4 separate regions of the Homo sapiens genome follow, and regions 1, 3 and 4 are each linked to region 2. The links come from fine-mapping of genetic effects on gene expression. A gene starts in region 2. Each other region holds a variant in brackets. All regions are shown on one strand. Distances are between the middles of the regions. Region 1 overlaps CCDC170 (coiled-coil domain containing 170). Region 2 holds the start of CCDC170 (coiled-coil domain containing 170). Region 3 overlaps CCDC170 (coiled-coil domain containing 170). Region 4 overlaps CCDC170 (coiled-coil domain containing 170).

The links. PIP is the estimated chance that this variant, and not a neighbour inherited with it, causes the effect.
Region 1: its variant is the best candidate, but not a certain one, in a credible set for the expression of CCDC170 in whole blood (INTERVAL, PIP 0.54).
Region 3: its variant is the best candidate, but not a certain one, in a credible set for the expression of CCDC170 in whole blood (INTERVAL, PIP 0.62).
Region 4: its variant is the best candidate, but not a certain one, in a credible set for the expression of CCDC170 in subcutaneous fat (TwinsUK, PIP 0.72).

The regions. Positions count from the first base shown.
Region 1 is chr6:151,617,743-151,622,894 of GRCh38, reverse strand. It overlaps CCDC170 (coiled-coil domain containing 170), which reads right to left. Exons shown (of 11, transcript NM_025059.4): 11 at 1,702-4,948. The coding sequence ends at 4,748. Among named protein-coding and RNA genes, the nearest start is that of CCDC170, 130 kb to the right of the region's middle. The variant C/T (reference allele first, on the strand shown) is at 2,569.
Region 2 is chr6:151,491,807-151,496,958 of GRCh38, reverse strand. CCDC170 (coiled-coil domain containing 170) reads right to left here and starts at 2,942. Exons shown (of 11, transcript NM_025059.4): 1 at 2,774-2,942. The coding sequence starts at 2,830. LOC124901436 (a long non-coding RNA gene) reads left to right here. Exons shown (of 2, transcript XR_007059817.1): 2 at 1-552.
Region 3 is chr6:151,584,103-151,589,254 of GRCh38, reverse strand. CCDC170 (coiled-coil domain containing 170) reads right to left here. Exons shown (of 11, transcript NM_025059.4): 7 at 3,166-3,366. Among named protein-coding and RNA genes, the nearest start is that of CCDC170, 93 kb to the right of the region's middle. The variant A/G (reference allele first, on the strand shown) is at 2,378.
Region 4 is chr6:151,568,394-151,573,545 of GRCh38, reverse strand. It overlaps CCDC170 (coiled-coil domain containing 170), which reads right to left. Exons shown (of 11, transcript NM_025059.4): 6 at 55-372. Among named protein-coding and RNA genes, the nearest start is that of CCDC170, 77 kb to the right of the region's middle. The variant T/AT (reference allele first, on the strand shown) is at 2,225.

The DNA.
Region 1 (5,152 bases), 130 kb before region 2:
TGATCAGCCTCTCGGCTAATATTTTTGGCATGGACACTTGGAGACAGGGGGTGTCTCTTTTTCTCGACTCATGGTGGGTTTTTTTGGTTTTGTTTGTTTGTTTTGTTCTGTTTTTTTGCCCAGAATGGTCTTGAACTCTTGAGCTCAAGCAATCCGCCCTTCTCAGCCTTCCAAAGTGCTGAGATTACAGGTGTGAGCCACGTGCCTGACCACATGAGTTGTAACAATCATGCAACTGCTTGTGATCATCTCTTCTGGTAGCATGGAGGAACCCATGTGCGGAAGGAAAAAGTCAGGCCAACATGCAAAGACAAGCAAAATCAAGTCAACATGAGAGATGGATAGAAGCAGAAAGAATTCAGACACCAATTCTGAACCCCTGGATCTAACAAAGCTGAAGCTAGTCTACCCCTGAATCTTTCAAGCAAGCCCCCAAAATTCTCCTTTCAGCTTAAGGTAGTCTAAATTGGATTACTATAAGCTGCAGTCTAGGATGTGAGTGGCTGAAACAACAGGAGGTAAAAGTATGGGCACTGAGAAGGCCAAGGAACTAAAGATATAGGCCAGGTGTGGTGGGTCATGCCTGTAATCCTGGCACTTTGGGAGGCCGAGGCAGGCAGATCACCAGGTCAAGAGATCGAGACCATCCTGGCCAACATGGTGAAACTCCATCTCTACTAAAAATACAAAAATTAGCCGGGAATGGTGGCACGTGCCTGTAGTCCCAGTTGCTCGGGAGGCTGAGGCAGGAGAATCGCTTGAACCCAGGAGGCGGAGGTTGCAGTGAGCCAAGATCGCACCACTGCACTCCAGCCTGGTGACACAGTGAGACTCTGTCTCAAAAAAGAAAAAAAAAAAAAAAAAGGTATGATGTCACATGAGTTGGCTTTATGGGCATTAAAGCTACCCAAGATGAAGGCAGCACCCGGTGGGGGTAGTGAAGACACCTATGAACCACTTGCAAAAGTCTAAAGCAGGGAGAATAGATAGGCTTTTAGTAGGTAACCCCAATGAGGTCTAGAAGAAAGTTATCCATCTATCAGCTAGCAGGAGCCTCAAATGAACCATGTGTTTATACAAAGGCAGAGGAATACGGTATGGAAGCACATAGCGGAAAGAGAAGCATACAGACCCCACTTGCTAATGAGAAGCTAAGTGAAGTGTCCAATAATGTGGATAAAATCACTACTGCATCAACTGGGTGAGACTTTCCAAGCCAAAGGCTACATAACCATGAAATGCTTCCCCAGTTAAAATGAGACTCCATTTCTGAGTCGTAAGTATTATGACAATATCAATAATGTAGATTTCTTTAACAGCTTCAGCCTGCCACCCCTGGACCTTGAATCACTTGCTGTTAACCTGTAAAACAGACTGTAAGGTAAAACTGGAAATTTTAGATAGGTCAAGCTTAAATTGTTTTCCCTAAATGAGATGTTTTTATGCATCGATTTAGATGTCTCAGACAGTGACCAGAATAATAACCTCAGTGCAAAATCACTATCACTCAAGTGTATTTGACAGAAGAGTTAGTATTAAATATTTTAAAGCCTTATGTAAAAATCATATCAACCTAGTGCATTTTATTGGACAGCATAAAATATACATGGATATTATAGAAGAACAAAATCTAACCTAAAAATTCAAAGCTGGCCTGCCAACTCTGGAATGATTGCCATAAAGGGAAATCCAACAACCAACTGGCATTTTAACAAAGAAGAAAATGGCTTTATTAAAAGTTTTCAATTTGTCCAAATGACAAACACTTAATGTGTATATGGACTGTATACATGTACAGAATTTATTGTTCCCATTTCATATACCCTTTTCATTAGAAGTCCCTAAAGATCATATTCAAACATTTTTCATATTTCTGAGTATGTTAAAGATCACTGTAGATCATTCTGTGTATGTTAAAGATCACTAGAGTCACACAGTGGAAATATTATATAAACATATATTTGGATAAATGGAATGTAATTTCATGTAATAAACAGAAATTACAGTACTAACCACTATGGATCATTTTTAGTCTCTTACATGAATCCTGATATAAAATTAATGATATCAAATCAAAAATGAAAAAAAAATTTCATGTTTTTAAAATATTATTTAAAATATCTTTGAATAGCGTAGAAAATAAATTTCCCAAGAAACTAAATCAAGTTTATTAAAGATTATATTTGGAAAATGAAAACAAAGAGAATGTACAAAAACAATCTCCACTCTCATACACCCACATCCACCCATAACTGCATTTATGGGTGCATGATTCAGGGTGGGGCAGAGCCACTCAAGCTCCGAGAGCCTCCAGAGACCCAGTGAAGTCACTTCCTCCACTCAAGGTGATTTTCGATCCAAAACAGCAGACACTACTACATCTTTGGAGCATGTGAAAAGGGGTTGGTGGGGAAAACTGCAGGCCTCCCCTAGAGGAAATTCAAGACTGCCTGTCCTGCCTCTGGCCAGCCTAGTGACCTCAGCCAGGGCTGCGCAGGTGTGTTTACTCACATGCAAAATACTACTTATACTGTCCTTGCACATGAAGGAGATAGCTAGGCAGGGATG[C/T]CCGCTCCACAAGCAAAGCCTGGTCACTCTCCCTCTGTGTGGTCTGTCATCCAACCAACAGGTGTCAAATTCATTCGCTTTCTTTTAGGTTTTTCTGTTTCTTTCTTTCTCTCTTTCTTCTTTTTTTTTTTTTTTTTGGAATCATCCATTCTACATTTATTGGTAGTTTTCCTAAAAGAAGATCTTCACTATTTTTTCCCATTTTATCACTTATTGTCTGTAGCACTGTGGATTCTCAGATTTTTAGTTATTTAAAGTATAACAATCAGTGCATTTGTCAAGCTTAAAAAATTAAAAATATTTTAATATAATCTAGGACTTAGTCCACATTCAAATTTTTACAATTATTGCAAGAATATTTTATGCTTTTTTTCATTCAAACCAAGATCCAATCTAGTTTTGACCCTTGCAATTGATTGTTTCATCTCTTTAATTTCTTTTAGTCTAGAAGAAAGAAGCCAATAATTTGCTTATTATGACTTTGACTTTTTGTTGTTGTTGTTTTTTGAGACAAGGTCTCTCTCTGTTGCCCAGGCTGGAGTGCAGTAGCGCGATCTCGGCTCATTGCAACCTCCGCCTCCCAGGTTCAAGCAATTTTCGTGTCTCAGCCTCTCGAGTAGCTGGGATTACAGGCATATGCCAACATACCGGGCTCATTTTTGTATTTTTTGCAGAGACGGAGTTTTGCCATGTTGGCCAGGCTGACTTTGACTTTTTGATGACTCACGAACGGTTGGTTGTATATTTTTCATTTTCTCCTAATGTTCGGGTGCACCAGATCTATTTCTTTCCCTTTCCTTTAATTTCATGCTAGAGCTTCTTTTAAGGACAATAAAAAAATACATCTTATATGATAGAAATAAGATAAATTGTCCAAAAGAGTAACACATTTTTCTCAGTGAAGTTAAGAATATGATTCCCTGAAAAATTTGTAAAATAGAAATTTAAATGGAAAACAGAAAGTGACAGGAATTCATAATAAAATCCTGATCTTAAAAAGGTACCATTGCTGTGGGTGTATTGGATATATTGGTGAATAAGACTATATAGGATTTCTTCATCTTATAGGGTTGGGCTCCAAATAAAGCTTTCCATTTTAAAGGACTGAGACCAGCCCTGCTGAAACATTAACAATTACCACCAGATATAATCTGGTAGCAACAGTTAGAACAGGCAAGTTTCTTACAGGACCTGAGACCTATGTAAGTTTGATCCAAATGAATTAGGTATATTGCTTTTGCTTTTTGAAGAAATCATATAGCTTACACTTGTAAATCTGTCATTTTTGGACATTAACTTTTTTTTTTTTTTTTTTTTTTTTTTTCTGAGATGTAGTTTCACTCTGTCGCCCAGGCTGGAGTGCAGTGGCACAATCTTGGCTCACTGCCGCCTCCGTCTCCTGGGTTCAAGTGCTTCTCCTGCTGAGTAGTTGGGATTACAGTCATGCACCACCACACCTGGCTTATTTTTGTATTTTTAGTAGAAACAGGGTCTCACTATGTTAGCCAGGCTGGTCTTAAACTCCTGACCTCAAATGATATGCCTGCCTTGGACTCCCAAAGTGCTGGGATTACAGGCATGAACCACTGTGACCAGCCCGGACATTAACTCACGATGGCAGGGTTATTGTCCTTCCTCTATGCAAACAATTCCCACCAGCATCACAGAGATTCAGGAGAAACAGATTCTGCATAGCAGGAGAAGAGGTATGGCTTTTGAGGCAGGGCCAATGAGTTGTCCATCCTGGTCCCACCACTACCCAACTGCAACCTTGGATAGGTAACTTTATGTCTGAGCCCCAGAAAGGTTGTAAATTAAAAATGTCACAGCTTCTCCACATGGTTATTGTGAGAACTAAATCGGCTAGTAAAGCCCCTGACTTAAAATAGATACCTCCCAATATTATCTCCCACTCCCATTTCCCAATCTAACTCATGCAATCTGGTGGAATTCTTCTGGATCCTAAAATGCTAGTAAATGAAATAATAGGCGTTTTTAATGCTGAACGTTTATCTAAGGCTGACACTTTTGAGATCGTTTTTGCAAGTGATGCATTCTCACTATATCATCAAAGCATAAAATATTCACAAACTGATCAAATCTCAAAGACATGAGGAATTTGTGAAATTGGGAATTGTGTGCCATGTCTTATGGCCACCTCTCTCAAGAGATACAGTGTTCAATGAAGAAGCTGTAAATGGCCTTGTGGGTGCCTCTCTTGCCCAGTAGTCACATCTTTGAGGCAGGCACAGGTAACAAAGTGATGCTGATGTGAATGGACCAATCTTTCAAGACACTTGATGATTTCATAATCAGGAAGAGCAAGGCTGGTCACGTTCAAGCCTAGCATCTGCGACACCACCTCCCTGAAGTCTGCCAGCTGCAATATCAAACAGAAACTCATTAACTGGGAGAACAAAATGTATCAACTACTGCTGAGCCAAATGCAACAAACAAAAAACCTGTAGAAAACCCAGGTTTGCATGAGGTAGGGAAATTATCTACTCTCTTCCTAGTTCTCTCACTTATAAAATACCAGATTCCAGATAAGTCACATCAACTGCCAACCTTCAGAGATTTCACA
Region 2 (5,152 bases):
AAGTTACAAAGAATAACGATAGCTAATATTGATATGCACTTATTCTGTCAGACACTCTCTTGAGTGCCTTACATTTATTAACCGTGAAATCCTCAAACTACGTTATGCGATAAGTTTTATGATTCCATGTTTTAGAAGAAAAAACTAAAATGCTGATACATTAATTGTTTTGACCAAGATGTCACAGATGAGTGGTATAATCAGGATTGTTTGAATCTAGTTTTGAGTCTAAAACTAGTATCTCAGTCTCTACAGTATTTTACTTTTCCAGAAAGTTGCAGACTATCACTGCTTTGTAATTTAATGTTTTCAGTCTGGCATGGTAGGAAAAGTACAAAGCTTTTGAAAGAAAGATACAAGTCCCTGCTCCATCATTTCTAATCCAGTAAGCTATTTCCTCATCTTATATAGTGAGAAATTTCTGCCCCGCCTATCTAAATTATAAGATGATCTCAGATAAAGTATTTTGCAAACTGAACATTTAATTGTAATAAATGCTGCCTTTTCTGCAGCTACTTTTGTTCTCAATAAAATTTAGTTATTTTAAGCCAATTAAAATCTCATGCTTAATGGACATTTTCCTTTTGTAGGCAGTGACTTATGCTAAAAATTTCTATCCGAATCAATATTATTACTCAACTAATATGATTTCTTATTTATTGCTAAAGGGGAAAAATCTGGCAGAGGCCACCAGCTGGGGACATCACCAATAATGGGATAAGCTGATATATGCCCCTCCTGATGTGATACTCTGAGACATAACATCTCTTATGTTATTCCTACCCAAAAATCTAATCACGAAGGACAATCAGAGAAACTTACTCTATAAAACGAATGACCTGGACTCTGCAAAAATGTCAGTATCATCAAAGACAAAAACAAACAAACAAAAAAACAAACAAAAAAAATGTGAAGAACTGTTCCAGGTTTGAAGAGACTGGAGACATAACTAAATACAGTGTGTGATCCTGAGATGGAAAAAAAATTGGCAATAAATGGCATAATTGGGACAAGTGGCAAAGTTTTAGTAGGTCGTGTATATTAGATAATATTATTGTCACAATGCTAAACATCCCGATTTTGATCATTGTATGTTCGTTAGAGAATGCCCTTATTCATAGGAGATAACACACCAGAGTATTTACAGATGAAAGGTCATAGGGGACCAGGCATGGTAGTGCATCTCTGTAATCCCAGCACTTTGGGAGTCTGAGGCAGGTGGATCGCTTGAGCTCAGGAGTTTGAGACCAGCCTGAGCAACACGATAAAACTCTGCCTCTGCAAAGAACACAAAAATTATCCAGGCATCATGGCATGCCTGGAGTCCCAGCTACTCTGGAGGCTGAGGTGAGAGGATCGTTTGAACCCAGGGGTGTCAAGGCGGCGGCGAGCCGAGATCGTGCCACTGCACTCGAGCCTGGGTAACAAGGTGAGACCCTGTCTGAAAAAAAGAAGAAAGAAAGAAAAGGAGGGAGGGAGAGAACAAGAGAAAAAAAGGAGAGAGAAAGAAAGAATCATGATGGCTGTAATTTACTCTCAATGGGCTCACCAAAAAAAATATATATTAATAATATAAAAATACCACATACTTATGTATGGTTAAGACACCACATTGGGATAAAAATTAATAAAGTCAAATATGAAAATGTCAGATGAAAGAAAAAACATCTAGTAACTGGCCTCTGAGTTAGAAAGAAAGAAAAAATAGTTTTATTTGCACACAGTGGTACTTATTTTCCACAAATATTCCAGGAATCAGAGAAATCTAAATACAGGTCAGATGTAAAACAACAATCAAAGCTGCTGAATATTAGAAGAATTCCGATGGCACGTTGGAGAATCCAACTCATGTTTTGAATCCACTACATCCCCCAGGGATATCTATGGTCAGTACACAGCGTGGTAGGAAAAGTCCAAAACTTTGGAAAGAAAGAAAAATCCTCCATCATTTACTAATTGGGTGAGTTACTTGCGGTTAGCAGTTGAGCTGAACACAATTCCCCCATCTCTGGCAACTACTCCCAATACACACGATACCCGGTGGGCCCCGATGCCAAGGCCAAAGGGGGATTCTTAACCCAGACTGAGCCAGCCAGATCTTCTTGTGCGCCCAAGTATGCATATGCCCGTGTTCGTGTGTGTGCGCGCCCGTGTTTGTTCGCGTATGTGCCTGTTCGCGTGTGTGCACGAGCGTCTGTGTATGCGCGCATGTTCGTGTGTGTGTGCGCGCGCGCATTGGTACATCTAATACCTGAAAGTCCCCAGTACCTAAGTAACTCCTGGGAGTAAATGAGTAGATGCATTCAGGAACAACTGAATTACCAACGTTTCTGGATTACTTCGCAACGAAAGGGCCGGTGACTCTACTCCGGGCTGGCCCTCCTCCTGCCACATCAGATTTTCCAGAAATTGCTCCGAAGCACACTTCAGTAGCTAAGCAGGGAAAGTTAAATGAAGGAATTCTTTGCTCCCAGGGGTGGCGGGGAGGAACTGCCCGGCCACAGTCTTTCGAATGTCACCGGTTTAAATGGTCAGAGAAGCAGAGTGGCACAACCTAAAATTCAGACGCGCTCCGCAAACTCCGGTCCTGCCCATCCCCTCCTGAAATCAGCGCCCTGGCAGTCCCAGGCCACAGCCCTCGCGGGCACAGAGCTGCTCTGATTCTGCCCACGCCTCCGGGAGGAAAAGGGTGCAAATCAGGGGCGCCTCGGCCCCTCCTGGGTCGTCTATCCCCAGGGCCACCCCCGCGCGCGGCCGGCGGCTGGGACCGTACCTCGGGCGCTGGCGAAGCGGCACCCAGCGCGATATGGCTGGTGCAGTCCAGGCTCATGACGACCCGAGCCCGGGGGCGCGCTCGGACCCGGAACCGGCCCTGAGGAAGCGGCGGCGCCGGGAGCCGGCGGGTGGCGCGGGTGTCTCCTCGGGCAACGGGTAAACACCGCGGGGACGCGGCGGCGCGCGGCTGCGCGCGAGTAGGGTGGCCCGGCCGCAGGAGGCCGGGGTGGACCCCGAACCCCCGAGCGTGGCCTCCGTGGCGAGGGCCTGCAACTGAGCGGCCGAAACTGCCAGGGCGACCTGGGGGGAGTCGGCGGGGATAACGGTCGGTCCTCCCGGTGGGACTCTGCAGTGAATGCAATTCCAGGCCTCATCCTTATGTCAGCGATAAATACAGCCAGTGGGCACTGTGAACGGTGCTGGCGCGAGTGAGGCATAGGAAACTTCACAAGGGTGAACGGAGCATTTATTTAGCACACACTGTGTGCAAATGTGTCTGCGAGCGTGCAACCTGTGCAGGTCCGGGTCCTGCGCTTGGTTTAATACTCAGCTGTCCCAGTCTTGACGTTTTTAGGAAGTTTTGAACAAGGTGTCCTGCATTTTCATTCTGTACCGGGGTCCACAAATTATGTAGCCTGCCCTGGTGTGCGTTCTTTCATTTCACCTTCTCAACAACCCTGCCTGGAAGTACGGGTACTAGTAATACCAGTGTTAGTAACAGCCACAGCTGCTCATTATGAAATACTCGTGCTCGTCCATGCACTGTTCTAAGTGCTTCCCACGTATGATCAATCTCCTTAAATGAAACAAGATTATGAAGTGGATGTTAGAATAATCCATCTGCAAGACAAGGCAACAGTCACAGGGAAATAAAATAAAATTTCCAAGATGTACAGGGTAAGTGGTAGAATGAAGATCAGGCTCCAGATCATAACACTAAAGCACAGAGAAGATGAGTAACTTGTTTAAGGTCCCACAATTTGTAGCAGAATCTGAAAATGGAATCTGCATTCACCTCACTTTAAAGCTTTTGGTGGGCCAGGCGCGGTGGCTCACTCCTGTAATCCCAACACTTTTGGGAGGCTGAGATGGGTGGATCACTTGAGGTCAGGAGTTTGAGACCAGCCTGGCCAAGAAGGTGAAACCCTGTCTCTACTAAAAATACAAAAATTAGCCGGGCGTGGTAGCGGACACCTGTAATACAGCTATTTGAGAGGCTGAGGCAGGGAAAATCATTTGAACCTGGGAGGCAGAGGTTGCAGTGAGCCAAGATTGAGCCACTGCACTCCAGCCTGGGTGACAGAGCAAGAATCTGCCTCAAAAAAAAAAAAAAAAAAAAAGAAAAAAGCCTTTAGTAGACTCCTATGCTGTTTGAGACACATGAAATCAAACAGGTGGGAGGATTGCTTGAGGCCAGGAGTTTGAGACCAGCCTGGGCAATACAGCAAGACTCTATCTCTACAAGTTTTTTTTTTTTTTTTTTAAATTAGCCAGGCATGGTGGTGCACACCTGTAGTCCTAGCTACTCAGAAGGCTAAGGCGGGGCCAGGTGAGGTGGCTCATACCTATAATCCCAGTACTTTGGGAGGCTGAGGCAGGTGGATCACCTGAGGTCAGGAGTTCGAGACCAGCCTGGCCAACATAGTGAAACCCTGTCTCTACTAAAAATACAAAAATTAGCTAGGTGTGGTGGCACATGCCTGTAATCCCAGCTACTTGGGAGGCTGAGGCAGGAGAATCGCTTGAACCTGGGAGGCGGAGGTTGCAATAAGCTGAGATAGCACCACTGTACTCCAGCCTGGGTGACAGAGCAAGACGCCATCTTAAAAAAAAAAAAAAAAAAGAAAGCTAAAGCAGGAGGATAGCTTTGAGCCCAGGAGGTCAAGGCTGCAGTGAGCTATGATCACCACTGCACTCCAGCCTGGGCGACAGAGCAAGAGCATGTCTCTAAAGACAACACAAAAAGGCAAAATCAGAGCTATGGCAGCTTTTCTTGGATTCCATCAGTCATCCTATGTGCATTCATATTGACCCTGAGGATTTCTTCATCTGGACAATGGCTTTTGAGCTCACGGTAACTTTGCCATATATCTAATCCAGAATCATCTCAAGGCTTTCACTTGATGCACCGTTAAAGAAAAAGTTCTTAATGAAAACTTAGGCTTTCAGAAATCTCCTATTAATAGTACAATTTGGAGTAAACACATTTTTAAGTTGTAGTTTTTCCTTGCAGTAGAACCACTACAAACTTGTCAAATTTTCTTTTCTTTTTTTTTTTCAAACAGAGTTTCGCTCGTTACCTAGGCTGGAGTTCAATGGAGCGATCTCTGCTCACTGCAAACTCCGCCCCCTGGATTCAAGCGATTCTCCTGCCTCA
Region 3 (5,152 bases), 92 kb before region 2:
TTTTGAGAGGGAGTCTCTGTCACCCAGGCTGGAGTACAATGGCGCAATCTTGGCTCACTGCAACCTCTGCCTCTCAAATTCAAGCGATTCTCCTGCCTCAGCTTCCTGGGTAGCTGGGATTACAGGCACACACCACCACACCTGGCTAATTTTTTGTATTTTTAGTAGAGATGGAGTTTCACCATGTTGGCCAGGCTGTTCTTGAACTTCTGACCTCAAGTGATCCACCCACCTCAGCCTCCTAAAGTGCTGAGATTATAGGCATGAGCCACCACATCTGGCCTGTTTTTGGTTTTTTGTTTGTTTGTTTGTTTGTTTTGAGACGGGGTCTCACTCTGTCACCTAGGCTGAAGTGGTATGATCTCAGCTCACTGCAACCTCCACCTCCCAGGCTCAAGCTATCCTCCCATCTCAGCCTCCCAGGTAGCTGGGATCACAAGTGTGTGCCACCATGCCCAGCTAAATTTTGTGTTTTTTGTAGAGATGGGGTTTCACCATGTTGCCCAGGCTGGTCTTGAACTCCAGAGCTCAAGCGATCCACCTGCCTCAACATCCCAAAGTGCTGGGATTATAGGTGTGAGCCACCAAACCCAGCCAATATTTCTTTACAAAATCAAATTTTCCACCATCACACCTTTACAGACATCTAACAGAAAAAGCTCCCTTCACTCTCCCAGACTTCTCAAATCTATCCCCTATTTCCATTCACAAAACCACTACTTGGTTCAGATCTTTATTATCTTCTGAACTGGGCTAGTCTGAACTGGACTATCTAACTGGACCAGTCAGGGAGCCACCAACTGGGCTCCCTACCTTCCCTCAGCTGTGTCCAACCCTTGGAAGGCGAGGACTTTTTGCTTATCTGTGGTGGCAGATACCTCAAAAATTATGCATGGTTGTTTTTTGTTTGTTTTGTGTGTGTGTGTGTTTTTGTTGTTGTTTGTTTGTTTTAGCTTATCAGCTATCACTACTGTTAGTGTATTTTACGTGTGGCCCAAGACAATTCTTCTTCTTCCAATGTGGCCCAGGGAAGCCAAAAGGTTGGACACCCCTGCTACCCTCTAAGCGAGTCTGACTTGAGGGAAATCTTTCTTTTACTCAAAAACCTTCTCTGGCTTCCCATTACCTACGCAGTGAAGCCTGAGTCATTAGACTGACCCATCTCGATCATTCCTATAGCTGCCTCCAGTGCCATCTCACACCTTTGGTTTCGCCAAGTATCATGTCCCAGGCTCCCTGCACCTCATTCATTTCCTGAGCCTTCTTTTCACACCTCCATTTCTTCTTTGTTCCTGCTATTCTTTCTGCCTCAAATTCCTTCCCACCTCTTCTGCCTGACAAATTCCTACTCATTCTTTAATGCTCCCCTCTTCTGTGAAGATGGCTCACTTACCACACAGAAAAAAAGTCATTGCTCCTTTTTCCAGGTTTCTGTTAAATTTTATACCTGTCTCCATCATGGCACTAATTGTACTATTTGCACTAATTGCACTATTGCACCATTGTACTATTGCACTAAGCGCACTAATTGCACTATTGTACTATTACGCCCCGATCTCCCTGTCTCATCTGCTAGACTTGATTTTCCACAGACACCTTTGGCACATCTTTGCATATCCAACCTCAATGCAGGCATGATGATTCCTCAATGTTTTAAGTACAGAAGAATGAAAAGGAATATGTTACTTGAGTGTACATGTTTCAACTTTAGGGCATTTTTCATGCCAAATTTGGCATCGAGGCTCTTGGGCCTGTGTGCCTCCCTTTCCCTTCCCACACTCCCTCCTGCAGACTCTTTCAGTCCATACTTTCCCCGCCATCCTGTCCAGCAAAACCTTTCTTTGATCTTGTTTTTCACAGCCACTGCCTCATGCCTCTCTTCTCTTTGGTCACCAGACTTCACACTGGTCTACTAGAAGGTCGCTCCCCTTCCTCTCAAGGATCCCCTCAGCACAAACAAACTGGCTTTTGCTCTCCACCGCTCCACCAAAACTGCCTCTCAAAGATCACTGACAGTCTCCCCACATTCGAATCCTCAGTGCGGGCTCCTTCTCTTCCCGTCTAACTCTCCTCTCCCACTGGGTTATCAGTGCCATTGTTTCCGAGACCCTCCATGCCACAATCTCAGCTCCACGGGGACATCACGCTATCTTTCTAAAATACTGCAATGTGGCCTGGCACGGTGGCTCACACCTGTAATCCCAGCACTTTGGGAGGCCGAGGCGGGCAGATCATGAGGTCAGGAGATCGAGACCACCCCAGCTAACACAGTGATACCCCGTCTCTACTAAAAATACAAAAAATTAGCCGGGCGTGGTGGCGGGCGCCTGTAATCTCAGCTACTTGGGAGGCTGAGGCAGGAGAATGGTGTGAACCC[A/G]GGAGGCAGAGGTTGCAGTGAGTCGAGATCACGCCACTGCACTCCAGCCTGGGCAACAGAGCGAGACTCTGTCTCAAAAAAATAGAAATAATAAACATAAACATAAAATAAAATAAAATACTGCAATGCTCACACTTACCACACTTCATATTCTACAGAGTAAAGAACACTCCATCTTCATAGTCTAAGCCATTCCAGTCTTTTCTCTTGCCACAGATCCACCGAGAATAACATGTTCCAGCCATGGAGGATTCACCATTTTGCGTCCTCTGAATATACTATGCACTTGCCAGATTTCATGCCTTTCTTCAAACTGTTTCCCCTACAGTATCTGTCTCCTGTCTCCACTATAATCTGACTTATCTTTCAAAAATGAACTTAATTATCTCCTCTCCTATAAAATCTTCCCTTTATCTGGAAGTTCCTACAGCACTTTATTAATTCAATACATATAACATGTGTAAACTTATAGTACAGCAAATTATCTGAGTATCTGTCTCCCCTATTGAATTATGAGCCTTTAAGATCAGGAACTGTGTATTATTCATATTTTAGCTTGCCAAACCTTTAGGACCTCATATATGGTAGGCATTCAATAAATACTCGTTGAGTTTAATTAAATTAATTTGAATCAAGGAAGCTCCAAACCCATTGTTCCTTGAAATTGACTTAACCAATTAAGTCCAGGACTTAACCAAACTAAATACTGTAAAATTCAGGATATTTTCAGGTAAAATTTTATACTACAACAGATGCTTCCACTCATGGACATGCCCTCGGGTCATTACTTTTTGTTTCTCAAAATTCAAGTTGTCTCGCAAAACACCTCCAGAAACCAGCTCTGCCTCCAGGTGTGTCAGCTGACCCTGAAGAGTCTCCAACATATTCTCTGCTTTCTGGGCCCTCTGGAGAGCTTTCTGGTGAAACCCAGACTCCTTTCCCAACTGTTCAACAAGCTCAGATATTTGGGCTTCAAGCTGGGAGACCATCTGGAAACAAAGAAACAGATCAAGAATAAGCCTTGTTTCAGATGCAAGGAAGTGTTCACATCTACTGCTCTGCCTAAGCAGCATAACTGTTTATGATACCAACTTCCAGATTATTTGTAAAAATCCCATTTAAAATATGTAATTGATAGCTGTATTTGCCTCTGTTTGAAATAATCTACTTTCATTATTGAATTAAATTTTTCGATTGGTATTTTTAATTTTTATATAATTCTTTTATCAGGTTAATCAATAAAAATTTATGGATAACATTTACTTACCCCAAAACTATTGCTAAGAGTTTCAAAGTTTAGTAGGAAAAAGAATTAAGACAAAAAGTACTGTAAAAATCTACAAAGAGTCATTCCCCAGAAAAATTCTTTCACCATTTTGAGTTGACTTAAGATTAGACAGTGAGATAATCTTGGTAGGTAACATTGAGGTATTACAGGGAATTCATGTACAGATATATGCTTTTTCAAACTTTTTTCAGCTTTCTGTTGAAGATTGGTTACCTATGCCCTAAACTCCAGGGATGCTGACTCTACACTACATAGTTATAGAGTAATACCATTTTTGCATTGGAGAGGTCAACATCTCTTTAATATGGTGACTCTAAATAAGGTCAGTGTCAATGTACAAGAGAGCAGGGGAATCTGAGTACTGTCCCATGTTAAAGTCCCTCCAGGCTCTCCACAACCCACCTGATTTGCCCAATGCTCCCATCCTTCCCAGGAGTTCCTCTTTTTGTCCTGATCATTCCCTTAAACCAAGAGTGCAAGTTTACCAAGGACCTCAGGGACACTCTCAGAAAACTCAAACTGATTTTACTAAATCCAGTTTCATAAAATGTTGAATTCAATAAAACCACCAAGCCTAGGGTGATAAATTTGTTTTCTTTCGATGGTTTATTTTGGAAGAGAAGAGGGAAAACATAGTATTTACATAACAGTACAGTACCATTCTCACAGAAATGGAAACATCCTGACTGTTTCAGATTTTTACTGTCTAAATTTTTAAAAAGAAAACAATTTCTGTTTGCCCATCTATAAACAGCCGTGCTTAAACACGTAATCTGCCTTTAAACTTTTTGAAAGGCTATTATATGGGAGAACAAAAGGATTTGTTCTGAGTTACCCTCGGAGCCTATATTGAGAACCAACAGGTATAAATCAGAGAAGAAATTCCATATTTATGAAAGGAAAATGTTTTCCCCAGTTCCTATAATTATAAAGTAAGATATCCCCATGAAATTTCTTTTAACCACAAAAAGTATAAACAGGCAAAAAACAATCCCCTGTGATCCCACCACCCAGAGGCAAAAGCCATTAATATTTTTAAATAATTTGTTTTTGTGTATTGTTAAAATATAGTTGAAATATTATACATGCAATTTCATGTCTTTGTTTTTACCTAATTATTCTCATGCCGTTTGAAATTCTTAATTAACATTTTAATGGCTGCATTAAGAATTCATCATGAGAATGTGTCATCATTCACTTAAGCATTCCTTTCTAAGAAAGGAAAAACTCTTCCCTGTGAGGTCTGAGAAAAAAAATTAAAAATAATAAATAATCAAAATAAAGAAGAAAGGGAAAACTTTACAATGATTACAGCTGTGTAAAGACACTGTCCAGTAGGGAGTGGATTCCCAGTCACCGAAGATGGCCGGAAATTGGCTAACTACAGGCACATCTCACTTTATTGCACTTACTTTATTGCTCTTCGCAGATATTTTAGTTTTTTACAAATTGAAGGTTTGTGGTAACCCTGCATTGAGCAAGTCTAT
Region 4 (5,152 bases), 77 kb before region 2:
AATGAATGAGCTCACTGTTCTTAAGATGTCTGTAAACAGCCATGACCCACTCACCCGGTCCCTGCTTTCTTCCCGGCTGTCCATTTCTCGAATCTTCTCCAAAATGGTGTCCTCAGTGGACCCAGTCATGCTCAATCTGCCCCTAAGGAGGGCTGCGATTTTCTCCCTAAATGAGAAGTACTGGCTTTGTGAGGTTGTGACTGCATCCTGACTGGCCTTCAAACTCTTCTCCAACTCAGAAGAGCTTTTCTTCAGGAGGCTCACTTCCTGCTTTGAGGCATCCCAGACCTGCTGGCCAGCAAGCAGCCTTTCTTGGAAGATCTTAACTTCCCTTTCAAGAGCTTCTTTTGCTTCTACAGCACTGAGCAGGTCCTAAAATGATTACAGAAAGTGAAGACAATACCATTAGAAGTCAACAGGGTACACCTGCATTTGCTATGGCAAATTCATTGACTTTGCCTGCTAATGACTACAAGGGGTTGGGTTAATTACTCCTTCCATTTTTAACTCCAAGTTCCCTATAGTCTCCTCATAAAGTTATTAAATCCCAATGGTATGTCAGGAAAATTTAGGTGTCTTAAAAACAGAAAATGGGGCCAGGCGTGGTGGCTCACACCTGTAATCCCAGCATTTTGGAGGCTGAGGTGGGTGGATCACTAAGGTCAGGAGTTCAAGACCAGCCTGGCCAACATGGTGAAACCCCACCTCTACTAAACAAAAATACAAAACTTAGCGGGGCATAGTGGCGCACACCTGTAATCCCAGCTACTCGGGAGCCTGAGGCAGGAGAATTGCTTGAACCTGGGAGGTGGAGGTTGCAGTGAACTGAGATCACTCCACTGTACTCCAGCCTGGGCAACAGAACAAGACTCCATCAAAAAAAAAAAAAAAAAAAACACAGAGAAGGGATATAAAATATAAAATCTGGGTTAGAAAAAAGAAGGAAACTTTGACACATAAGCCTTTTCTGTGTGGAATACTGGAAAGAGTTAATAAAAACAAATCATTGGATAACATATTAGTAGATTCAGTCCATATGTAGAATATGTTTATAGAACTATCTTTCTCAAGCTTGGTGTATACGGAAATTTATTTTTAATAAACAGTAAGCTCTCAGAGTCCTAGCTAGGCACTAACAATTATTTGAATAAAGATGCCCCCTCAATGCTATTTTGAATAATAGAGGAATATTCTCATAAAAACATCATTGCATAAAACTATTCATTGACTTCCAATATCCAATATTCATTGCATATCCCCTTGTCTCATAAAGACAACGCAGAAAGAACCTGAAGAAAGGAAACAGAAACAACTAGCCATTTGGTAGGTGGGAGGATTAAAAGTAGAGGGAAAGTATCATACTTAGAAGAATAATCTTAAAGAATATAATATGGGCTGGGCACAGTGGCTCACTCCTGTAATCCCAGCTCTTTGGGAGATCGAGACAAAAGATTGCTTGAGCCCAGGAGTTGGAGACCAGCCTGGGCAACTTGGTAAACCCCCATCTTATATAAAATAAAATAATTTGCCATGCATGGTAGCATGTGCTATGGTCCCAGCTACTTGGGAGGCTGAGATAGGAGGATTGCTTGAGCCTAGGAATTCAAAGCTACAGTGAGCAGTAATTGCATCAGTGCACTCCAGACTTGGTGACACAGCATGACCTTGTCTCAAAATAACAACATAAGAACATAACATGTGAAATTAGGTTCAGAAAAATAATGAAGGACATAAAGAAGGTTACCTGTGTACTTAATTCTATTTACCATAATCTAGAATGGCCCACAGAGGCACCAAAGGAGGATTTTTTTTTCTCCCGGGACGGAGTTTCACTCTTATTGCCCAGGCTGGAGTACAATGGCACAATCTCAGCTCACCATGACCTCCGCCTACTGGGTTCAAGTGATTCTCCTGCCTCAGCCTCCCGAGTAGATGGGATTACAGGCAAGTGCCACCACGCCCAGCTAATTTTGTATTTTTAGTAGAGACAGGGTTTCTCCATGTTGGTCAGGCTGGTCTTGAACTCCCAACTTCAGGTGATCTACCCGCTTCGGCCTCCCAAAGTGCTGGGATTACAGGCATGAGCATCTTTAAAATTGATTTTTAAAATTATTTTTTAACATCAAGTTCCAAAATACATGAATTCACATTAAGAAATATTAAGCGGCGTGTTAACTAGCATGGCTGTAGTATTGCTACCTAGTTAACTGGTAAAAAAAAAAAA[T/AT]TATTAAAAATAGTATGTTAGAGGTAAAAAGCACTAAAAAGAAACACAATATTTTTAAATAACAGACTCTACATCTAAATGAGCTGATAACATTTCAGGCTGCCAGTTAAAATGCAGTCACCTCTTTTGCATTAGAACTGGGCTTTAAAAGAAATTTCTCTCCATTAACAGCTTGGAAACAGGAAAAAGGATAGCCTGAAACACTAGTTCCTATTTTTTATAGGAAACATAACATCTTATTTTTTCCATTATGGTGACTTTTTTAAAATCAAGGAAGTCTCAGGCATCAATTTGAAAGAAAAGTCACAGAGTAGATATGTAGTTAGAGAAGCCTGCCCTTTTCAGAGATGTAATAACTCAACTAATTATGGAATCTATTTTGTAAAATGCCTTTTGCTTTTCAAGGTCTTGGTTTCCCCTTTCCTTTGCTAAACTAGTCATGTCTGTAGAGAAGCCCCACTGTTGCTGCTAATTAAATGACGGTCCTTAAAAGTAGAGTCAAGGACACTTTATCACAAATTCAATATTTTAACAGTTTACAGATTTCTCTTCAGATCATAATACAATATCTTCTCACTTGCTCAATTAGAGTAACTAGTATCAGTAAAGGTGATAATAAATTGGGGCATATTTTACTTGGAAACTACGGTCGTTCCTTGGTATCCTTGGGGAATTGGTTCTAGGACCCCGGAAGATATGAAAACCTGAGGATGCTCAAGTCTCCCATATAAAATGGAATAATATTCTCATATAAGCTACACATATTCTTCTGTATACTTTAAATCATCTCTAGATTACTTATAATACCAAATACACTGTAAATGCTAGATAAATAACTGTTATCATGTGTTGTTTTTATTTGTATTATTTTTATTGTTGTTTTGTTATTTGTATTGGCTTTTTTCCATATTTTTTTATCTATAGTTGGTTGAATCCACAGATGTGGAACTTGTGGATGCAGAGGGTCGACTGCACAGTCTGATGTGTGGTTAGAAAATTGAGGTCCTAAATTCAATGATGCTGGGATGGAAATTAATCCTAATCACTTTAGAATTCTAAAACCATATGGAATATTATATATTCACTAAAGACCCTCAAAATACACAAAATATATCTCAGATGCTTGTGACTTATGGAGTTACTGTCAATTTGGAGTAGACAACTCAACTGGCAGCCAACACCACAAGACCAATAAACACAATTAAAATATTTCAACTATGAGGAATTTTTCTACCCCAATATCATACTAATGTTTCACTGACTTCAAGAAAAGGGCCAAAACAATCCTCTCTAACAAATCCAAAGAACGTTTTCTTTTTAAACCTAGGCATCAACATTTATGTCTAGTGAAAATCACAAAATCAGTTTGTGTTCATAGAATACAATGGTGTCTGTGAGCAAGTTGGGTTTCTCTTTTTCAGGCACATTCAGCTCAGTGAACCCTAAGCTGTTTCTTGTATAAAATGCAGGACTCGAGAGCCAGAGTGACAAGGCCTTGGGGATGGTCGCTCCCTTAGTGCTCTGATTAAGTGCTGCAGGATTCAGGGGCACAGGGCTGATCTTCTGGAAATAAATGTCCTCAGACTGCAAATGCAATTACTTGTTCACCTATCAGGAGAAAGCCATCAGAGTGGATTCTGGTTCCATGGCTACCTCAAGGATACGCCGAAGCAAGCGGCATAAAATAATGTGACATCAGTACCACTGGCCAGGACCTGGGGATTGCTGTCAGACCACACTGACATACAGGACAAGAAACATAAAGCTTCCTGTGAGCAAAACCAAGACTGACCTCCACAGAGGAAATCACAGAGGGCAGGCCCTATAGACTGTGATGGGGATCACTTAAAAAATTTTTTTATAATTAATAAGTCTTTAGGTTCAGTCTGACTGAAGCGACAAATGTAAAATGATTCTTTCAAAATTACTTTTAACAAAAACTTTAATAAACAATATGATTATGGCATTCAATTTAGCTTCCCATTTAAATGCACGAGTCTGCATTAAGTAATGAAACCATCCAAAGGTTTGCGTTTTAAAAACACAATTGATTCCTGTTCTGTTGCTATTTTATGGATTTAGATACACATGAGATCAAATTGCCACTCAAAAGTACAATGATTATCATCAGGACAGAGAACCTGTGGCTTGAGCTTAATTCCTTCAATCCTAGATCAATTTTATAAAATAAAAAAATCAGTTGGTTAATTCTACCTACTGCAGTTATGATTAACAAAAAAACTCAGAAATTCCCCCAAACAGGTAGTCTCATACATTGCTGGTGGCAATGTGAACAGGTATAATTTTGGTATAAATTGTTGGCATAAATACATAACAAAACTTAATATGCACTTATCTTTTGGCCCTGAAGTTCCAGTCCTGAGGATATATCTATAAGATAGGTTACTAAATATAGAAAATGAGGAATATGTAGTTATCCAATTATAATATAGCAAAAGACAACATACTACATGAATATTCTTTGATATGTAACTTCTTAAACAAATATGAGACATCCATACTATAGAATATGATGTAGTCTTGAAATGAAATGGGGAAGTTCTTTATATACCAATATGAATGATTCTCCAAGATACAGTTAGTGAAGAAAGTAAGGTGTTTAATAGTGCATCTATACAAATAACAATGGTACATAGTATAGTACCATTTGTACCTTTATGAAAAGAATATCTCTAGAAACATGCACAAGCAACTGCCAATTCTCATCACCTCTAGAGAAGGGAATTGTAGCCAGGGGTTAGGAATGAAAGGAAGATGTGATAGAATAGTGGCAACTATGAAAACACCGGGGAATTTTAGTCCATTTAAAGTGTTGAGTCAACAGTGATATGAGCACAAATATACACATGCACATGCACACACCCATTCCCCCCTTCCCAAACTTGGGCTGCATTCACAAAAGTAAAG